2 separate regions of the Homo sapiens genome follow, and region 2 is linked to region 1. Evidence: fine-mapped expression QTL. A gene starts in region 1. The other region holds a variant in brackets. All regions are shown on one strand. Distances are from middle to middle.

Region 1 (10,730 bases):
TTTGTACCTTTCTACACTCTAATAATAATTTTAGTTTGGAAAAATAGGACTGAAGCTCAATGGGAAGGTAGACCATGGAAACATGGTCCTCCCAGGAATAGTGCAGTATGAAGAGAGATTAAAGGATTGCCCTAATGACATTAAGGCCCAGAGCAGCACTGTTGAATACAATTTTTTGCAGTGATGCAAATGCTTTTTACTTACATTATCCAATACAGTAGTCATTAGGCCATATGCTACTGAGCACTTGAAATGTGGCTAGTATGAAAGAGGAACCGAAGAGTTAATTCTAACTGATTTTAAGTGATTTCAGATTAAATAAGCATATGTGGCTAGTGACTGCCATATTGGATGGTTTAGGACTAGAGAAACCAGTCAGGCGTAGAGGGTTCATCAGAGAAGAGGCCTTGCTGGTACCCCTGAAAAATCACTCGATATTTGATCATCTGCCTCATACCTCTGGGTAATATTGGTCCTATATTTGGGGACCATAATTTATTAGCTAGCAAAAGGTTTTTTCCTAGTGTGGACTACAAACTTATTTTACTATGTTTTATCTTTAGGAGAGTAAGTACAATACTCCCTCTCCTTTCTTATCTGAGAATCATTATAGTCATTTTCTCTGTATTTACATTTTTCCATACATAGTATTATTTAAGAGCTCAAGCTCCAGGAAAACTGCCTGGGTTCAAATCCCAGTTCTGCCAATGAATATTTTGTGCCTTGAGTTAGCTGCTTCACATTTGCAAGCCTCACTTTCCCTATCCATAAAATAGGGATAATAATAGTGCTTCATTTATAGGGTAGTTGTGAGGATTGAGTTAAATAACCTATGGAAAATGCTTAGCCAGTATCTGGCACATGCTAAATAGTCAGTAAGAGTTAGCTATTCTAAAACTAGTACCGTGTGACAGTGTGTATTTTGTACCTCTGCATTTTGACATTTACTCAACTCTATTTTTGCTTCAATAGAAGGTGTTCCTCCAGATCTCTGTCAGAACATTCCAAAAAGAAATTCATTCCTCAAGATAAGAAGGTAGACAGAGTTTTGAAGAATTAGATTTTATCTTATTGCAGGCATGAGTTTTGAGTTGTTTTTTATTTCACTTTGATTACTAAATTGTTAAAGTATTTAAAATCATTACAGAAGAAAATCATGACCGTGATATTTTGTTGTGATCATTAAAATTCCCTTGGTTTAAGCTCAAACCGTTGCACATATACCACACAATCAAATAATAATACTAGAAGTTCTTAATGTTGGCACAGAAGATTTCTTGATGTTTTGTAGTTATACTGTTTTTTTTGTTTTGTTTTGAGATGAGGTCTTGCTGTGTGGCTCAGGCTGGAGTGCAGTGGCTATTCACAGGCAAGATCCTACTGCAACTTTGAACGTCCAGCCTCATGTACCCTCTTGCCTCAGCCTCCCCAGTAGCTGGTACTACAGGCTTGGGCCACTGCACCTGACTCATACCTGTTTAATTGAAATATTTAATTCCTAGACTCTGGCTATTCAATGCCACTTAGAAGTGGCTGGATATTTGTTGATCATGGACTATTTAAAGACTAATGACGTCACAGGAACAAGTAATAGGATCCCTTTTGTTGTCACCTATTTTGTATTTTGTAATCTTTGGATTGTAAAACTGCATTGTAATATAGTATTGCACTCCCTACGGTGTTTGTGCAAAAAACATTTTTTTTTCCCCATTAGATTGGAATTTTGAGAAATCTGGCTTCAAGTGCCAGTTCTGCCTTTGGTTTGTCTAAATAAAGAAGTCATTTATTTCTCTGGGCCACAGAGAGGTAAATGTCATCTGTAAAGTCTAAGAGTTGATCTTGATTTGATTCTAGAATGGTCTTGAGGTATCCTTCCAAATAAAATTCCTTGGATCTGCCTCCTTCCCCCAACTCCCTAGGAGGACCTTTGGCCTTAAGGGACTTAAGAGAGGTCAGTTTTATCTACTGTTCACAGCGTTTACTTCCATGCTTTAAAAAACATGCTCTTGGAATATTCTTGGATATTTCATTTCCTTGGAAAACAATTAATGGGTGAGTCAGCATGAAGAAAAAAACCCACTCACAATAGATATAAAAATTGCATGAAGTGGTGAAACGAGAAATGATTTTCTTTGTAAACTGAAATGATGAGGTATGCAGAAACCAATTACGTATTTATAAAATGAGCGCGCGGTGGGAAAGCTTTATGTAGCAAAGCTAAAGTGCTGTTACATATTTAGCAAGACAGAGGGCATGGAGATTCCTCTCCATACTGCCTTAAAACTGCTGTTAAACGTTCCTTTCAGTGAGAGAGACAATGTGTTGGGAGGCGGACGAAGGAAGGAAGCAAGGGAAGGGTCAAAGCCTTCCCTCCGGCCCCGATCAGTCCCCTCTGTAAATTCATAATTAAGGGAATTTCCTCCTGCAGCTGCGCAACGCTTGGTGGCCGTTTCGACGTCACTGTCAGGGCATTTCAGGGATTTTGTGTGCCCAGGCAGTGACTTCCCGACTTCTCCGGCGTATCCCCGACGGGGCGCAGAACACCGCCCGTGGCGAAGTCGGGCCGGGGGAGTTTGGGAACCCGTCCCCGGGAGCTCAGCGGCCAGAGGAGGGCGCGGAAGTGTTTCCTGGGTGAGCGCGGCAGCGGGACCCGTTTCCGGAAGGCTGATTGCATCAGGTGTGGAGCAGGGCGCCTCCTCGGCCCAACCTGGCGGCCTCTGCGCCTGCGCGCGCCGCCCCGCCCCCCCCCCCCCCCCCCCCCCCGCCGCCGCGGACTCCACCGCGGGTTTTCCTCTCCGTCGGGAAGAGACCGACCTGGGAGGGGCAGGCTCCGCTCACCTACCCCGGACCCCCGAGAGAGAGCGGGGTGGCCAGGCCGGGTTCCGGGGATCTGAGGGGAGCTGTGAGGTCCGGGAATAGAGTGCCTTGGAAAGAGGACCCGTCTGCAAGGTTGGAGGCTGGTCGATCTCCGCTCCTGACGGGAATGGTGGTCTTGGGCTGGTTTCCTTGCCTCTTTGGCCTTGAAGATCACAGACTAAGAACCACAGGCTCTCCAGTTCAGAGAGCCTGTATTTTCCCCAAGAGGTCTACTGTGGCCCTCGACTGTCCTTGGTCCACGGACGTGTTAGGTGGATCTTGGGGTGCAGAGACTCAGTCCCAAGAGTAAACACTTTTCATGAATTTATAGGGATTTCTCTGTGACAGTATTGTTTTTATGTTGTAGGAAGGAGGGACATGATTGCTGGCCTCCAGCTCGGTCTGAGGGAGATAATTGTTAATTGGAGAGGTTATTGGAGTGCAAAAGTCAGAAACCACCTTCCACAAGGCAGCCCCCCTCCCATCCCTTCGTAACAACCTCACTGAGTCTGCATGAGGGTCCCTCTATACACTCTATTCGCACCTTGTGCATTTCCCTCCCAGCACTCTACCTGTTTGAAATAACCGTTTTGAGTGATTATTTGATAGGTGTCTGTCACCCGGCCGGACTATAAATTCCATGAAAGCAGGGGCCTGGGCTTTTAAATTCACCACTATCCTCAGGCCTAGTACAAGACCTCGTGGATCCTTAATAAACTCATGTAGGAAAGAATAAAGTAATGCCCACCCCACTGCATAGAGTCCTCATAGGAAGAATCACGTGAGTTTTTAATTCGAGATCCTTGGTAGGACTGTGTGTGTGTGTGTGTATGGGTAGGGTTCTCTAAAGTGTATAGTCCTCACACCAGCAGCATCAGCATCCCATGGGAACTTGTTAGATATACAGATGCTTGGGCCCCACCACATATCTACCCATTCAGAGACACAGATTGGGACTCAGGGATTTGTACTTCAGCAAACCCTCCAGGCGATTCTGATCCAGGCTCCAGTTTGACAACCGCTGCCCTGGTGAAGAGCAATCCTAAGGATACTTTGGGGATGTCATTCACAGCGTCTGGGGCAGAGCACGGTTTACCGTTTACTGAGACTCGACTCTTATCAGGGCTTTGTTTGCACGCTTACAATTAGAGTTATAGATAATATTATTGGCAATGGAAAGGAAAACCTCCTTTTCCTCTCCGGCAGTTGTATCTCTCCCCTGATATTATCTTGTGATTTCCGGATCAAAGAAGAGTGTGTGTGCGGCATATGCCTGGGGGTGGGGATAGGAGGTAGAAGGAAGGAGAAGGTGTCGCCTACAACTTGCAGTTAGCCTGGGTGGGTGTGGGCAGCTCTCCTGTGGGGACATTTTCCTATTGCAAGGGAATGCTGGCGTGTGGGAGAAAAGCCAGGGCTAAGGTAACCCAACTGCCTTTTGGTGCAGACAGACACCAGCCACACGGAGGGGATACCCGGGCTGCACTGCACGTCCTGCCTTTGGGTCTTACTGGGGGACCCATTGCCTCCCTGCGTGTTCCCAGGCGATTGGGGAGGGTGCCTCCCGCAGGCCCTGCCGCCTCCACCTGCAGGGGTCGCCCTGGGAGCGCGGCCCGCCTCCTTCTGCCCGGCCCCCACCCCCCGGCCCCGCCTTTCTCCCATTCGGCCCCCTCCCCGCCGGGTCCCTCCAGCCTTCCCTCGCGCAGCCGCTGCCAAAGCCTGGAGAAGTGGAATCTCGTCAGCGCCGCTCCCTGCGCGGGACTCGCGGAACGGCACTGAGCATGCTCAGTTGCCGGAGCCCGTTCTGGTCTCAAGTAGGAAGCTAGTGCGCTGTAACCGCATCTGATCTGGGCGCTCCGGGAAGGGCGAGACTGGAGCAGAGCCGCTGGGCGCCGGAGCCGAGGCGAGCGCCGCGCGCACCACTGGTGAGCCCAGCTTTCTTCCTTGCCTTTGCCCCGGATTCCGGGGCAGCACGAGAGTGCTGGGGAAACACCCGGGTAGCGGCAGCAGCGTGCGGCGAGCGGCTGCGGGTTCCCCCGGCGGCTTCTCCTCTGCTCCCGGCCCCGGGGCTCCGCGGCCACTGCTGCCCGCTCAGCCGCAGCCACACCTGCAGCAGCTGCCGCGGCATCTGCAGCGGGGCGCCTGCTGCGGAGTCCCGTGCGCCCTGCGCCCGCGCCGCAGGGCCAGTGGCACGGCGACTGCGGGCTCACTCTCCTTGACTTCCATCCCTCCCGCTTCCCGGCGCCCTCTTTCCCTCAGCAGCCCCGGCTTGGCAGGGCCTGGGGCGGGGGAGACCGGGTTGGAGGCGGTGCGCCCGGGTGGGGACTGCAGAGGGGAAAAGTGAGGGTGGGCGCCTGCGGGAAGAGCGCACACCCCCTTGTCCTGGCACCGGCCTCCGCTGTGCCGCTCGGCTGTCTCTCCTGGGCGGCAGCGCGCTCCTGCCGGGGAGTTGGAGCCGGGGTTGGCTTCTCCACGAGGGGTTCAGAGGCCAGCCCATGAGACATGAAAGGGGGGAAAAGTTCCTTTTCCCCCTCGGTGGCAGAGAGAGCGTTTAACTAGAAAATGGCTGTGCATAGGGGACCGACTCCAGGAAACTGGCCACTGGGACCCGAAAGCCCCTGCGCTGCCCACCGGGCGGAATGGAGGGTGGTACGCTAGAAATGACATTTGTGCGGCGAGAACAGAGCTGGACGGAGGGAAGGATGCTGAGACCCATAGAAACAATGAAAGGTGGTCTTCACGTCGGTGAAGTGGTGTAGACTACGGGTTCGGGGCAAACAGCCGAGGGAGCATGGGACTAGAATTCAAAAAAATAAATTAATTTGGATAAATCATATGTGGAGTTGTCACCGACCGTTCTGTAGTCAAGTTCTGCGCGGTTTTAGAGCCACGACTGTCACAGACGTTTTTGGATGGATTGAGTGGTTGAGGAGGGTTAAAATTGAGAGGAGAATAAGGTCAGTGTCGGAAGCTCCAACTGGGCTCTCGGAGGGGACAGTTTGTTTAAGTCCCTCAGTCACTGGCTTTACATTGTGTCTAATTACTTACGTGAAATACCCAAAGGATTATCATAAAATGATGCCATCGGTGGTGTTTGAATTCCAAGGAATGAGGAAACTTTGTGAGGTTGGCATGGGTTTATCATTTGTTTTAATATTTCACTGATTTAAAAAAAACAAACACAATGGCAGTTTGATCTGTTGTTTCTGGAGTTTACTCTCTTAAATCTTGCTTTTTTTTTTTTTCTTGTCATGGTTTCAGATTTAAAATCTTGTCCCCAAATGGCCATAATAATGCAGAGTATTAGAATTTGTGTGGCTGGCCTTTTAGGAACAGATGGAATCCTTGAAAGGGGATTTCTTCATGAACTTAGGTAGCAACCTTCTCGTTTTCAACTTGTAGCTTGTAAGCAATATTTGTTCAACAGTTGTTTATCATAACTTGCAACATCCTAGAAATGGCATCGTTCGTGAAGGATGGTATTTGTGGCGAGAATGGGGAAACCTCCAGGCTGGGGAAATGCCGAGAGAACACAGGTGGCAGTAGAGTACAGTGGGTTGATCATAGGGCGGAAGGTGGTGGGGTACAAGTACAAGATTTCAATTGCTGTTCTTTCGTTGTCCATGTACTGTATGACCCCGAAGTCACCGACAGTCTTCGTAAACTGGATGTAACCACGTCTCTAGATATTTGCTGAGAGCCTTTGAGAGACGACTCTAAAGTTGAGATCCTTTCCACAGAAGGTTTTTAGGTCCTATGCTTTTATTCCCTCTTCTAATGGATACTTTTAACTGAATAAATTCACCTTCAAGGAGCCAATGTGAACTGGCTTTCTGAAATTTTTATAAAGTGGTAATTGAAAAGCTGGATGGTGAGGTGGGAGGATTGCTTGAGCCTAGGAGTTTGAGGCTGTAGTGAGCTATGATCACGCCACTGCACTCCAGCCTGGGCAACAGAGTGAGATCCTGTTTCTGAAAAAAAGAAAGCTTGATGAGCTAAAGTGCAAAATACTGGTGTTTACACTTAGCTGGAGTAATGTGAATACTGACTCCAAAATTACTTGGGAAAAAACTATTGCATATATTGTAAGAATCCACATGTACAAACATAAAATATTTTTAAACTGGTACTTTTTGTCATGTTTCAACCTTTTGATGACTGTTTTCTTTTCCTGCCACCAGAAAAACAGCATATGAACATTGAATTCTTTTATTTTTCTGTTACCACAGGAATGAATACTGAAAGCCTTGTCATAATATTAGAATAATGATGTGTGTGGACTATCCTGAGTACTGGATATCTAAATTTATCTTTTAAGAAAAATGGAAGGGAGAGCATCAGGAAGAATAGCTAATAGATACTGGGCTTAATACCTAGGTGATGGGTTGATCTGTGCATCAAACCACCATAGCACATGTTTACCTGTGTAACAAATCTGCACATCCTGCACACGTACCTGGAACTTAAAAGTTGAAGGAAAAAATAAGAAAAATGGTATGTCGTGTCTCTGTACCTTTTTCAATTTCATTTTAAAAATAGACAATACCTGGCCGGGTACGGTGGCTAACACCTATAATCACAGCACTTTGGGAAGCTGAGGCGGGCAGATCACTTGAGGTCAGGAGTTTGAGACCAGCCTGGCCAAGAGGTAAAACCCCCGTCTCTAAAAAAATACAAAAATTAGCCGGGTGTGGTGGCTCCCGCCTGTAATCCCAGCTACTGGGAAAGCTGAGGCAGGAGAATCACTTGAACCTGGGAGGTGGAGGTTACAGTGAGCCAAGATCGCGCCACTGCACTCCAGCCTGGGCAAAAGGGTGAGACTCCGTCTCAAAATAAATACATAAATAAAATAAATAAATAAGTAAATAAATAACAAAACAAAACTGGACAATACCCTTGTGATATAACACCTTAAGTTTTCCGGGGGCGGGGGAGGGGAGCAGGTGGGACAGACTTTTAGGAAAATATTGTAATAAGTTATTACTGGTTATGGGGGGAATACTTATTTTCCTACATGGGGTTAGGAAACCAGCATTTGTTCAGTGCCTAGTATTATTATTATTATTATTATTTTTGAGACAGAGTTTCAGTCTGTCACCCAGGCTGGAGTGTAGTGGCGCGATCTTGGCTCACTGTAACCTCCACCTCCCAGGTTCAAGTAATTCTCCTGCCTCAGCCTCCTGAGTAGCTGGGATTCCAGGTGCCCGCCACCACGCCTGGCTAATTTTTGTAATTTTAGTAGAAATGGGGTTTCACCATGTTGGCCAGGCTGGTCTCCAAGTCCTGACCTCAGGAGGTCCACCAGTCTCGGTCTCCCAAAGTGCTGGGATTACAGGCGTGAGCCATCACGCCTGGTCTGTTCAGTGCTTTTTATGTGTCCTATTATCCTATTAAGGTTTTGTATATATCATCTTATGCTGTAAGCATCTATGCATAAATGTCAGCTGTCTAAGAAAACCCCTCTGAAAAGGTAGATGCTCGTGATTTCACAGCAATAGAGCTTTAAACTTTTATCTTATATGAAAATATCTTTAATTGATTCCATTATTATTCAGTAAGCATTCTCTTTTAAAGCATCTTTGATTTGTTATTTAGAATTAAATTTGATTGGAACTGCATATCTTCAGAATGATTTGAATGTTTTCAAGAAGGTTCTATCCAGATTTTAAAACTGTTTTGTGTTCATTTATTTTCAATAATGTTGCACTACCAACAAATGAAATTAGATGTCAGAAGATAAACCCAGATTAGCCATTTTGATTTTAATGTGTTATTAGTGCATATTCTGCATGCTGATATGTGTTGACGGCATTTCTCTCAGCCGAAATGGTTTGTCAGAGGCAGAGTAACAGACTCTCCATAATAAAGGGTCTGGGGGGATTTGGAGGAAAGACTACTAACCAGGGACCCCAAAGACTTGCCTTTGGGGCTGGCTTGTCCCTTACTTCAATTCACTGTGTTACCTGGAAAAAGTCAGTTATGTCTCTGGGCCTGTTTTCCCATCTGTAAAATGAGAGAGCTGCAGTCACCCTCTGGTTGTCTATCGGGTCCTTCTTGTCCCAGTCTAGAGATCTGTGATGCAGCCATTCGAGGAGAGAGGTCTTCGTTTAAGAGCAGGGGTCCCCAGCCCCCTGCTTCGGACCTGAACTGGTCAGTGGCCTATTAGGAACCGGGCCATAGAGCAGGAGGTGAGCGGCGGGCAAGTGACCTTTACCACCTGAGCTCCACCTCTGTCAGATCAGTGGTGGCATTTGATTCTCACAGGACTGTGAACCCTGTTGTGAACTGCACATGTGTGGGATCTTGGTTGTGCACTCCCTATGAGAATCTACTGCTTGTTGATCTGAGTTGGAACAGTTTCATCCCAATCCCCAACCCCATCCGTGGAAAAATTGTCTTCCATGAACGCTGTCTGGAGACCACTGGTTTAGAGCATTATTTGGAGGTGATTTTGTGTTTCCCTGTCTGGTTTGTCACTGCTTTGTCCAATGCCCTTCTTTTTTTGCCCAATTCCTACTTCCCTTATAGTTTTCATTTGTTATAAAATGGTTGTCATAAAATTAACTTTATGGCCCTGCCAGTCTAGTTAGCAGATAAGGTAATGATTAGATTTGGGTAAAGTGTATTCGACATTTGAAACTACTTCATAGCATTTTCTGCGGGGAGACTTTCTGCTCTTGAGCACACAGATAGTCTGAGAAAGAAACCTCTACCTAGGCTGCAGGGGAGGGGGTCCTGTGCTTTGCTTCCCAGGCCCACCCTTGTGAAATTTTGGCAAGCCTTTCCTGTGTCCCAGCCTTTGTCTCCTCGCCTCGATGAGAAATGCAGCCCTTGGTCTCTGGAATACGACTTTCACTCTCATTTGACGTTAGCCCTGTCACTGTGTTGGACAGATGCCTGTGATTGGCTGCTGCAGTAGCAGGAGTGGTGGCTGGTGAAATGTGTCTACTCAGTGTCATTAGCAGGATCATGAGCTTTTTTTTCTTTTTTCTTGGCAAGCTGCGATGGGGCAGAGAGCAAAGGAAACCAATCCCATTTGGTGTTTTTAGTGCATTTTGCTTTCAAGAGGCTCACAAAACTCAGCCTCATTAACCTTTAAGTGAGTCAGTGAGGAGTTGTTATCCCATTGAAATAATTTTTAATAAAGGGAGAGTGACTCTAGTTCCTCTAATAACCAGGCTCCAGGGTTCCTGGACCCCTGTTAGGAGTGGGTCATTAACTCCAGACATTAGATGAGAGCTGGGAGAGAGGAAGGGCATAGAGGGTGGAAGGTCAAGTCACACAACTGGGCAGGAAGTAAGAAGCTTGATCAGTTTAAAGGTATTAGAGCTCTTTGTGTGTAGAGTTACAGGAGATATTCCCTTTCTATATAATTTATTTCCATGGTGTTTGAATCTTATCTTGTTTTCTGTAATGGACGTATATTTATTTTATAATCAGAGAAAAATCCCAATATATAATTTATTGATATATAAAATGTACAGATTCACATGGACAAATACGAGAAGAGAACATGGAAAGAAATGAATGGTATAGAAAAGGATGGATTAAAGCTTTTCTTTGTTGTTGGTTAATGACTTGACAGTGGTTATAAACAAAGTTTACCAGTTCTACCCTCTCTTTTCCTCTTGTGGAAATCTTGCAAACTTTGTTTGCTAGGTAATAACTGAAGTTCCCGAAGTGTAACTCATTGGCAAGTATGCTTCAGGAATGCTTAGAGTGGGAGGAAGAGTGTCGTTTTTTTTAAGTTGATGAAAAAGAATGCAGAAACCGGGAGCAGTGGCTCATGCCTGTAATCCTAGCACTTTCGGAGGCCAAGGCAGGTGGCTCACTTGAGGTCGGGAGTTTGAGACCAGCCTGGCCAACATGGTGAAACC
Region 2 (10,730 bases), 360 kb after region 1:
CCTACTGAGTTACACCCTCTGAGATTGTGGCGCTTTTTTTTTTTTTTTTTTGAGATGGAGTCTCACTCTCGCCCAGGCTGGAGTGCAGTGGCACAATCTCGGCTCACTGCAACTTCTGCCGCACAGGTTCAAGTGATTCTCCTGCCTCAGCCTCCCAAGTAGCTGGGATTGTAGGTGCCTGCCACCACGCCTGGCTAATTTTTGTAGTTTTAGTAGACACAGGGTTTCACCATCTTGACCAGGCTGGTCTTGAACTGCTGACCTCGTAATCCACCCGGCTTGGCCTCCCGAAGTTCTGGGATTACAGGCGTGAGCCGCGGTGCCCGGCTAGGACCCGCCCGGCACCATCATTTTAACTGTTATGATGCACGTTATAGTTTGAGACCACTAACCTGGGTGCTGCTTTGAAATCCTCTGATTATGCAAGTGTCATACAAATGGATGTTAAAATAGTCTCAAATATTTAAGGAATCCTTCAGGGATTCCCTTATCCTCAATTCAGGAGATTTTGAAGTGGCTTCCACATTCAGAGCTGCTTTTATCTTTGGCTGAGGCAATATAAGGATCTTTGTGGATGGTATTTAAGGATAGTTCAAATTCATATCTATGTATTTTAGTAGCATGTTCTCTAGGAGCAAATTATAATGCTTTGTTCTATAATGAGTTAATAGCGTGAACATTGTCCTAACAGTCCTGTGACTTTCTTGTTTAATGTTTATACTCATGTAATCAAACAAATTGAAATTGGATTATGGCTGTTGCACGTTATATCAGTTATTATCCAGTTTAAATGCAGGTCTGAAGGAAGTAAAATTGATTTTTCTATGCTACTTGGGGACATCATAGGTTATTGGTATCCTGGTTGAATTTTCAGTTAGGTTTCTATGAAAGAAAGATGAGTGGTTAGGTTTGTTGAATTTTTTTTCTTTCACAGTATTTTGTAAATAAACTGGGATATTTCATTCTAATTAGGAAGTCAGATGCCTTTTAAAAGTTGGGTGATCAGTTTCCATATTTTTATTTAAAGCATGTCTGGCTTTTTAAAGTGTATCATAATCCTGAGTAACATTTTTATTTTTAGAAAGAAAAAAGAAAACAATAGAACACCTTCATAATACTCAGTTACTACAGTAACAGCTACCATATTTATCAGAGAATTAGCTGTAATATGTACCAGAATTTCACACATAATTGAACCTGTCTTTCTGTGAACCAGACCTGTTTTTAAAAACTGCCTTCATTCCATAAACACCGTTTGTGTACCTTTTCTGTACAAGCCCCATGCCCAGTAGTAGGGACTCAGAGTTTATCTAACATAGATATCCTTCACAAAAGCAGATGTTTTATTTTTATTCATTCATTCATTTATTCATTTATTTTAGAGATAGCATCTCGCTCTATAATCCAGGCTGGAGTGCAGTGGCAAGATCATAGCTCTCTGCAGCCTCAAACTCCTGGGCTCAAGCAATCCTTCTGCCTCAGCCTCCCAGGCAGGTAGGACAACAGGTGCAAGCCACCACACCTGGCTAATGTTTAAAAAAAAAAATTTTTTTTTTTTGAGACAGAGTCTCATTCTGTTACCCAGGCTGGAGTGCAGCGGTGTGATCTCAGCTCACTGCAACCTCTGCCTCCCAAGTTCAAGTGATTCTCCTGCCTCAGCCTCCTGAGCAACTGGGATTACAGGCACGTGCCACCACGCCCGGCTAATTTTGTATTTTTAGTAGAGACAGGGTTCCACCATGTTTGCCAGGCTGGTCTCGAACTCCTGGCCTCAAGTGATCCGCCCACCTCGGCCTCCCAAAATGCTGTGATTACAGGCGTGAGCCACCACACCTGGCCTAATGTTTAAAATTTTTTGTAGATATGGGGGTCTCGCTATATTGCCCAGCTGGTCAGAAATACATTTTATTACTACTTAATGCTTCGAAAGCAAAGTGATGGGCCAGAGAACACAAAGGCAAGGGTGACGAGCCCTCGGGAAGTAGGGAAAGGCCTCATGGGAGAGATGGCATTTGTTTGATCTGGACCTTAACTCATAAGTAGGCATTTGCAAAATGGAAATTTGTTATTTAAATCATAAAAGCATTATATTCTGATTACCTGGTCATATAAAAAAATCGGTTAAAAAATAGTAACATTAAATTTAATCAATAGTGGATGTATTAAGCACTTACTGTATGTCAGGAAATGTGCTTACTGCCGAAAATACAACGGGAAACTGCCAAGTTAGAGAATAGTCAATGAGACCACCCTCAGGTTTGATAATTTGCTAGAAGGACTCATAGAGCTCACTGAGGGCTGTGATTATGCTCATGGTTGTGGTTTGTCACAGGGAAAGGATTCTGATTAAAATCAGCCCAAGGAAGACACACATAGGACAGAGTCCAGGGAAGTTCTGAGCCTTCAGTTGTCCTCTCCCCACGGTGTCCTGGGCAGCATAACTTCCCTGGTGTTGCCGTGTGACAATAGCACAGAGTATTGTCAACCAGGGAAGTTCATCCAAGCCTTGGTGTCCAGGATTTTTATTGAGGCTCCACCCCAAAGGCATAGACAACTGGTCCAGGGCTAATCTCAGTCTCGAGTCCCTCCAGAGGTGGAGCTGATACTGCATGGGCCAAGCGCCCACCCCAGATCACCCTATTAGACCCTCTAGTGTATCCCAAGGCCACTAGGCAAACAGAAACACCCCAGTCAGGCACAACATTCCAAGGTGTTAGAGTTTACCTCCCAGAAGCTGAAGGCAGAGGCTCTCTTCAGCCAAGGTTGAATTCTTCACTGTACAGAAACAAAACCAGACTCTGTAAGTTTATAAAGCTCACTGTAAAGTGAAGGAGATGAATAATAAATGGATGATTTTCCAAATATTTAACACCAAGCTGCAGCAGGAGTACGAAGGAAAAGCCTGGGATGCTGTCAGGGAGGACACTGCCTGTCAGGAACATCTTCCAAAGGAATCAACTTTTGGGCTGAGATTCCTAGAAGATGAGAGGGATTCATCAGGTGAGCAGTGCAGGGAAGAGCATTCTAGGAGGGTCACAGTCAGTGCAAAGGCTCTGAGGTGGGAAGTAGCTGGGCGTGTTCCAGGAACTGGAAGAAGAAAAGGGGACTGGAGCAGAGACAAAGAGGAGGGAATGTGGTTGCAGCATTGGAGATAGAAGCAGGGACCTGATCCCAGGCGGCCTGTGAGACCCTGAAAGCGATTATAGACTTTATCTGCATTGCAGTGGGAAGCCACTGTGTGGTTTTAAGGTTCGAGCATGGATACTCATATTTGTGATTTTCGTTTTTGAAGGGACTCGCATTTGTGATTTTTGTTTTTGTTTTGAAGGGACAGGTGTGGCTCCTGTGAGAACAGCTTGTTAGAGATGAGTGGAGGCAAGGAGACTGTTAAAACACTACTGCAGGCCGGGTGCGGTGGCTCATGCCTCTAATCCCAGCACTTTGGGAGGCTGAGGTGGGCAGATTACTTGAGGCCAGGAATTCAAGACCAGCCTGGCCAACATGGCAAAACCCCATCTCTGAAGCATGAGGATCACTTGAACCCAAGAGGAGGAGGTTGCAGTGAGCCAAGATAGCGGCCACTGCACTAGTGAGACACTGTCTCAAAAAAAAAAAAAAAATGACAGCAGCCCTCCTGATGAGATGTTGGCTGGAACTAGGGTGGCAGCATGGAGTTGAGAGAAGGGGGCAAGTTGGAGAGAGCAGGAGGAGGCAGAGTTGGCAGGACTTGTCACACATGACTTCCTGCCAGCAGACCCTCAGCTGTCACACTTGACGTACCCTGTGGACATCTGGCAGACCCATCTATTTGTTGCTTCTGCCCTGCTATAGACAGAGAATCAGACAACCAAACTCACTGGAATGATGTGTAAGGAAGGAGAGGCAGCCTTTGAAGGGGTGACAGGTACAATCCTGTTAACTTGTTTCATATCTCTGAGCTTGCTGCTGTCTGTTCTGGCTGCTGAACCCCAAGTCTTAAACCCTCTTCTAGCCTCACTTGCAGTTTGTGTTGTGTTCCAGACAGTTGTGGTTGCCAAAGCAGTTTACTGTCAATAACTCTTCCAAATAATTGAAGTGTTACTGATCGTAGATTCAGAAACAGCATGAGTTAAATCTTGCCCTCCCTAGAAAGACAACTGTTAACTAGAAAAGCATAATATAAAATTTTCTGCACAGAACCTGGTACTTAGGAGGAGCTTAGTAAATGTTGAACAAATGAGAAAACACCTGATCCTCATTTAAACATGAACATTAAAGTTGTCTGTACACCTGTGGTGTGTTTTACCAAACCCAAACAAGACCTATAGTTAAATACTCCCTTGATTTTCCATGTGTATTTCCTATTTTCTGTTCCTTTCTTTGTAAAAGGAGCGTATGAGACTTTGAATATAGCCAAAAACATGGCTAATATGCTTTGCCTATTTTGCTCTTTTTTTTTTTTTTTTTTTTTTTTGAGACGGACTCTCACTCTGTCACTCAGGCTGGAGTGCAGTGGCGCGATCTTGGCTCACTGCAACCTCCACCTCCCAGGTTCAAGCAATTCTCCTGCCTCAGCCTCCCTATTTCACTTTGTTAATTGGCTAATCAAATAACTTACGCTTGCCCAGAAACAATTAGAAAGAGGAAGTACTTTCAGTGCTCACAGAATACAGTCAGTGAGAGACCTTGGATTTTCCTTTCCAACTCATATATTTATATGACTAGTGGCTAGCCAGGACTCTTACTTAAAGTGCTGAAAGTGCTGTCACTTAGCCAATTGGACATTTTCTGCTTCCATGTATATGGGGGGAGGGGCGCTCAGCTAGAGATGACAATGTTGGGGTGCCTGTGGGATCTTGGCTTCAAGTCAGCTATAAACAAAAGGTGTCTTAAAAGAGGTAGGGATTACAAAAGGGTGTAGGGGTGTACTGCTAAGTGCTTTGTGTAAATTGGCAGATGATCTGTAAACACTTTCCAGCTCGATTCAGAATTTTCTGCCTCTTGAAATCTGATTATTCAGATTTATAAAACTACAATTTGGTTTCTGTCTTTCTGCCCAAAGGCTTTCTGGCTGTGGGCTGCAATACCTCCCTTCCCCAACCACCCCTCCCCGCCCCCCATTTCCCCCACTCGCCCCACAATCAGGATCGTAGAAACCCAGCCTGGTGCGGTGGCTCACCCCTGTAATCCCAGCACTTTGGGAGGCCGAGGCGGGCGGCTCACTTGAGGCCAGGAGTTTGAGACCAGCCTGGCCAACATGGTGAAACCCCATCTCTACTAAATAGGAAAAATTAGCCAGGCATGGTGGCGGGCGCCTGTAATCCCAGCTGCTAGGGAGGCTGAGGCAGGAGAATCGCTTGAACCTGGGAAGCGGAGGTTGCAGTGAGCCGAGATCGTGTCACTGCACTCCAGCCTGGGCGACAGAGCGAGACTCTGTCTCAAGAAGAAAAGAAAAGAAACCAGAAACCCAGCAGGCCTAGAGCATCAACTTTTTCTAAAGAGGTTCAGTGGGTTTGAATGAAGTTTCTAAGTCTTGAGAGTCCAAAAAGGAAACGTTCGTTACAGGAAGGGAGTATGTTGGGGTGGGGGATCCTCCTTGCCGGCCCTGAGCCAGTCCCCTAGCAGCTGGAGCATCTGGCGGGAGCACCTAGCGGGAGCACTTCACGGGAGTGCGGCCGGGTGGGGCGGGGCCACGCGCCTCCCCAGCAGCCAATGGGCGGCCGCGGCGGGCGGGGCAGGGAGGGCGCAGGGAGGCGCGGGCGCCGCTCTCTTCAACTTGAGCCCGGGGCAGT[G/C]CGCGCGGCTGCTTGAGCGACGGCACCGCTGGCTGGTGCCGGCACCCTGGGGCTTGTCGTAGCACCTGGGGCGGCATCCCCGCCCGACTTCGGAAGGACCGGGAGGCAAAGGTGAGGAAGTTGGCGAAGGAACGGCTCTCCTTTGTTTGCAGGTGCGTTCAGGGGGAACGGGGGTCGAGCCCAAGCTCGCTCGCGGGGACAGCGAGGCGGGCGCGGGAGACCTGCGGGACAAAGGCTGCGCCCTCCCTTCCCCGAGTCAGCGCTTAGCGAGTTGCCTGGTCCTGGACGGCTGGAAGGGCTGAAGAGGGGGCTTTCTGCCCCGCCGGTGGGAAGAAGGAGTGAGGCTTGTATGAAATGGGGGGGAGGCGTCCTTGGACCCCCAATTCGCCAGTGCAGCAGGACTGTTCGGGGTGGGCTATTCATTGATGGGGTCTGCACGGGGCATTTCTGCCGTGGACAGCGTTCTATGATTGAGGCAGTGACTGCCTTCGCCTCACGTGCCCCCTGGTGAGGCCACATTTCTGTCTTCCTGTCTACATTAGGACTGAAAGATATTTCAGGGTTTTGGTAATCCAGTATTTGGATTAAAAGCAATATCCTTTCGTGTAGAAAAACTGTGCATTTCCAAATGATTTTAGTTACACGATTTAGGATATTGGTGTGACTTCCATGCGAGAAAATATCTCAAATTCCCCAAATGTAGAAACGCAGCCAGCTCTTGGCATTGAGAAAGAAGTAGTGTTTTTGAAAAGAAAGGCGTGAAGATTTAAATATTGCTTACAACACTCTATTAGCTTGTGGGGGAATCTGTGCCTTTTCTATTATCTGTTTCCCTATACCAATATTGTAACCAGGCACGTCTATGGATTCCTAATTAATGTGTAGCTGTGAATCTTCATTACTGCCTTGGGTGGGAGAAGGCGGAAGGAGGGGGCAATCCCATTAGTCTTTTTCTTTCTTTTTATAACTGCAGCTGCAGCCTGGCTTTGACTTGTATCATGAATGGGGGTTCTGCCTGCTTTCCTCATGCTGTTCTCTTTTAGGTTTTCTTAGGCCATTGAGCAGTTGGCCCTTCCTCCAGCCGAGCTCTTACACAAGAGTAGTTTGTAAGATTCTCTCTAAAGTTCAGATCCTTGCTGCTGCCTTTTAGTTAGTTGAGTTCAGAAAGGAATTATTAAGTGTCCTGAGGCCTTTCCTAAGAAGTTAGAAGCAGAATGTGTTTGTAAATGTGGTCTGTAATTTTGTAAAAGTTATAAGTAAAAGGGAGTGTGAATGAAATGCTTAAGAGGGGAAAGACTTTCCATAAAGCATCAGCCAGTATTATCAAAGAAGGTGTCATGGTTTGTAGCTCAGTAAGAACCCTACTTTCCGTTTTGCTTCCTTTTTTTTGTTTTTTTTTTTGAGACAGAGTCCCTCTCTGTCACCCAGCCTGTAGTGCAGTGGCACAATCTCGGCTCACTGCAACCTCTGCCTCCCAGGTTCAAGTGATTCTCCTGCCTCAGCCTCCTGAGTAGCTGGGACTATAAGTGCACACCACCACACCCGGCTAATTTCTGTTTTTTTGAGTAGAGACGGGATTTCACCATGTTGGCCAGGCTGGTCTCGAACTGCTGACCTTGGGTGATCCACCTGCCTCGGTTCTCCCAAAGTGCTGGGATTACAGGCATGAGCCACCATGCCTGGCCTCATTTTATCATTCTCACTTTGCAGATGTGAGAAACACACTTTTCTAACAGCCGCCACGTTGTTTAGTTCTAGCTTTTCTGCAATGGGGATAATTTATTTAATAAGTATTTATTGGACACTTGCCATGTGCTGGGCATTGGTGCTGGTGATTAAGTGGCATAATAAATACAACAGGTGTCTTCTTCCTTTCTTGGAGCTCACACTATGCTGGCGTGGGGCCCATTGCAGGTTCTCTGCACTGGAGCATCCCTGGGAAGCAGTGTGGATGACACCAAGGTGAGACAAGAAGATACTGCTGCTGATGGCCGCCTTGGAGGTCAGCTGAGCATGTGGCAGTAGGCGCAAACAACGAGGGGCCTCAGGTCATCTGCACTCCAAGGGTGGAAGTATTAATCACACCAGTGGGCCATTGGGCACTAAAGTCGGTCATCTTGAACTTGCTTACTTTGATCTCAAAGGAGCCTGCAGCTGCAAGGAGGGGCAGAGCTGAGTTCTAAAGAGTTTGAACATTGGCATTGTTGATTTCAATGGGGTAATTCCAGTTTGTTACAAAACTATCAGTCATGCAGCCTCCTTGTCTCACCTATACAGCTTTCCTCTTGGACAGCCCCCCTAGGAAATGAATTTCTTTTTCTTTCTTCTTTTTTTTTTTTTTTTTTTGGAGATGGACTTTCGCTCTTATCGCCCAGGCTGGAGTGCAGTGGCGTAATCTTGGCTTACTGCAACCTGTGTCTCCCAGATTCAAGCGATTCTCCTGCCTCAGCCTCCCGAGTAGCTGGGATTACAGGCGCCCGCCACCACACATGGCTAATTTTTTTGTATTTTTAGTAGAGACAGGGTTTCGCCATGTTGGCCAGGCTGGTCTTAAACTCCTGGCATTAGCTTATCTGTCCATCTCGGCCTCCCAAAGTGCTGGGATTACAGGCGTGAGCCACCGCGCCAGGCCTAGGAAATGAATTTCATTCTGTACCACTGGCTGAGCAAAGCTTTACATCTGTCCAGGCTCCCGAGTGTTAAGAGATGACTTAACTGTGTCCCTATTTACTCTCCATATACGTTTCATGGGTTTTTGGGAGTAAACTGATGGCATATAACCTCTTATCTAGGTTTTCACAAATCTCTAGGATCACAGAAAAACATACTAAGTAGTAGTGTAACTTGTCTTTTTAAAGAGCTTGTGTTGAACACAGAATATGACATATTTGAGGAGTTCTTAGACTTTTGGATTCCTCGGGCCCTAACATAGTACCTAGTATAGGATGCCCTCCATAAATAACCCAGTTGATGAATGGGCAGATGAATGAATGTAGATGAAAATACTTCATTGTCTACTTTTAGGGTTTAATTTTGACCATCCATGTGCTTAATATTTATAGTCTAATGGTTAATATGCTGTTCGGCAGATAAGGAGCATCCATGTGTCAGGCACCTTGTGAGGCAGCATGAAGGACTGAGACAGATGAGGTCCCTGTTTGAAGAGGCAGGAGATAAGCCGGAAAAACAATTCAGGAAGCAAGATGATACAGGTTATGCCGAGTGTCTTGAAGACCATCAACAGCGTGATGCAACAGAGTAGCTCAGAGGGGAAAGGGGCCATCAGGAGGCAGCCTGTCCTAGGAGGCAACATTTGAGCTGGGCTTGAAGGCTGAGAAGAAGCCAGCCATGTAGGGAGTGAATAGAAAGCACTGAGGAACAGCTGGGTGTGGTGGCTCATATCTGTAATCCCAGCACTTTGGGAGGTCGAGGCAGGTGGATCACCTGAGGTTAGGAGTTCAAAACCAGCCTGACCAACATGGTGAAACCCTGTCTCTACTAAAAATACAAAAAAAAAAAATTAGCCAGACATGGTGGTGCGTGCCTGTAATCCCAGCTGCTCGTGAGGCTGAGGCAGGAGAATCACTTGAACCCAGGAGGCGGAGGTTGCAGTGAGCCGAGATCATGCCATTGCACTCCAGCCTGGACAACGAGCGAAACTCCATCGCAAAAAAAAAAAGAAGGAAAGCACTGAGGAAGTGGAGCACTCAACGTGCCTGAGGATGAAGAGGAGGCCAGTGGTTTGTGCTGGAAGAGGTGGGTGGGGACAGGATCCTTTAGGGCTTGTGGGCAGTGCTTAAAGGTTTGCCATGAGGTGCCCGTGAAGAGGGTTAACCAGGGGAATGCCATGATCTAGTTTATTTCATACAGAAAGATCTCAGGGAATAGATATTGGGAACAGGAGTGGAAAACGAGGGACCAGTTGGCTAGCCCTAGTCCAGGAGAGATCAGTGACATGGCAGAGGGCATGAAGAGAAGCAGGTGGGTGGGGGAAATGTGGAGGTTGAACTCGCCAAGTTGACTGTAGAAGATGCAGGAAGGGGTGTGATCTAGGACCATACCTGATTTCTTTGATGCGTTGTTTATGTCTGTAGAAAATACATGCTAATAGAAGTAATAACTGTTCGAGGACAAAGTTATTAAGCCATGGAACAACTCCCTTTACATTTATGTTGTATCAAGACCTTGATTTAAGCCAGACACGGTGGCTCATGCTGTAATCCCAGCACTTTGGGAGGCCGAGTGTCCCCAAAGGATCACTTGAGGCTAGGAGTTTAAGACCAGCCTGGGCAACGTGGCAAAACCTTGTCTCTGCTGAAAATACAAAAATTACCTGGGCATGGTGGCACATGCCTGTAATTCCAGCTACTAGGGAGGCTGAGGCACGAGAATCTCTTGAACCTGGGAGATGGAGGTTGCAGTGAGCTGAGATCGCGCCACTGCCCTCCAGCCTGGGTGACAGAGAAACACACTGTCTCAGAAAAAAAAAAAAGACTTTGACTTTCTTTTCTTTGGTTCTCCAGTGTAGATGAGCAGACGTATCCATCCAGTGCAATCTTGTGTATTTGGCCATTTTTCCAAGATGTTTTCACCCTTCAGTACCCTTTCTGTCATTCTCAACTGGTTATGAGACCTTTGAGCATTTTTCTTTGTTCTGGCATGAAAATAAAGAATCAGACTAAGAAGAGAAGATGGGTTTAAGCCTTAATTTATATGGAATTATTCTACCTTTGTTCCCAGTTTATAAGAATCCATTCATAATTACTTTTTTTTTTTTTTTTTTTTGAAGACAGAGTTTTGCTCTGTCACCCAGGCTGGAGTGCAGTGTCACGATCTCGGCCCCCTGCAGCCTTCGCCTCCCGGGTTCAAGCGATTCTCCTGCCTCAGCCTCCCAAATAGATGGGATTACAGGCATGCACCACCATGCCCCACTAATTTTTTGTATTTTTAGTAGAGACG

The links. PIP is the estimated chance that this variant, and not a neighbour inherited with it, causes the effect.
Region 2: its variant is fine-mapped to the expression of APBB2 in whole blood (TOPMed, PIP 0.91).

What each region holds. Positions count from the first base shown.
Region 1 is chr4:41,208,453-41,219,182 of GRCh38, reverse strand. APBB2 (amyloid beta precursor protein binding family B member 2) reads left to right here and starts at 4,641. Exons shown (of 18, transcript NM_004307.2): 1 at 4,641-4,778. RefSeq lists enhancers at 2,330-2,579, 1,887-2,701, 6,269-6,348 and silencers at 2,710-2,759, 4,377-4,546, 4,957-5,266.
Region 2 is chr4:40,852,178-40,862,907 of GRCh38, reverse strand. The region is part of intron 12 of APBB2 (amyloid beta precursor protein binding family B member 2); the gene reads left to right. Among named protein-coding and RNA genes, the nearest start is that of NSUN7, 110 kb to the right of the region's middle. RefSeq lists a silencer at 5,589-5,788. The variant G/C (reference allele first, on the strand shown) is at 5,772.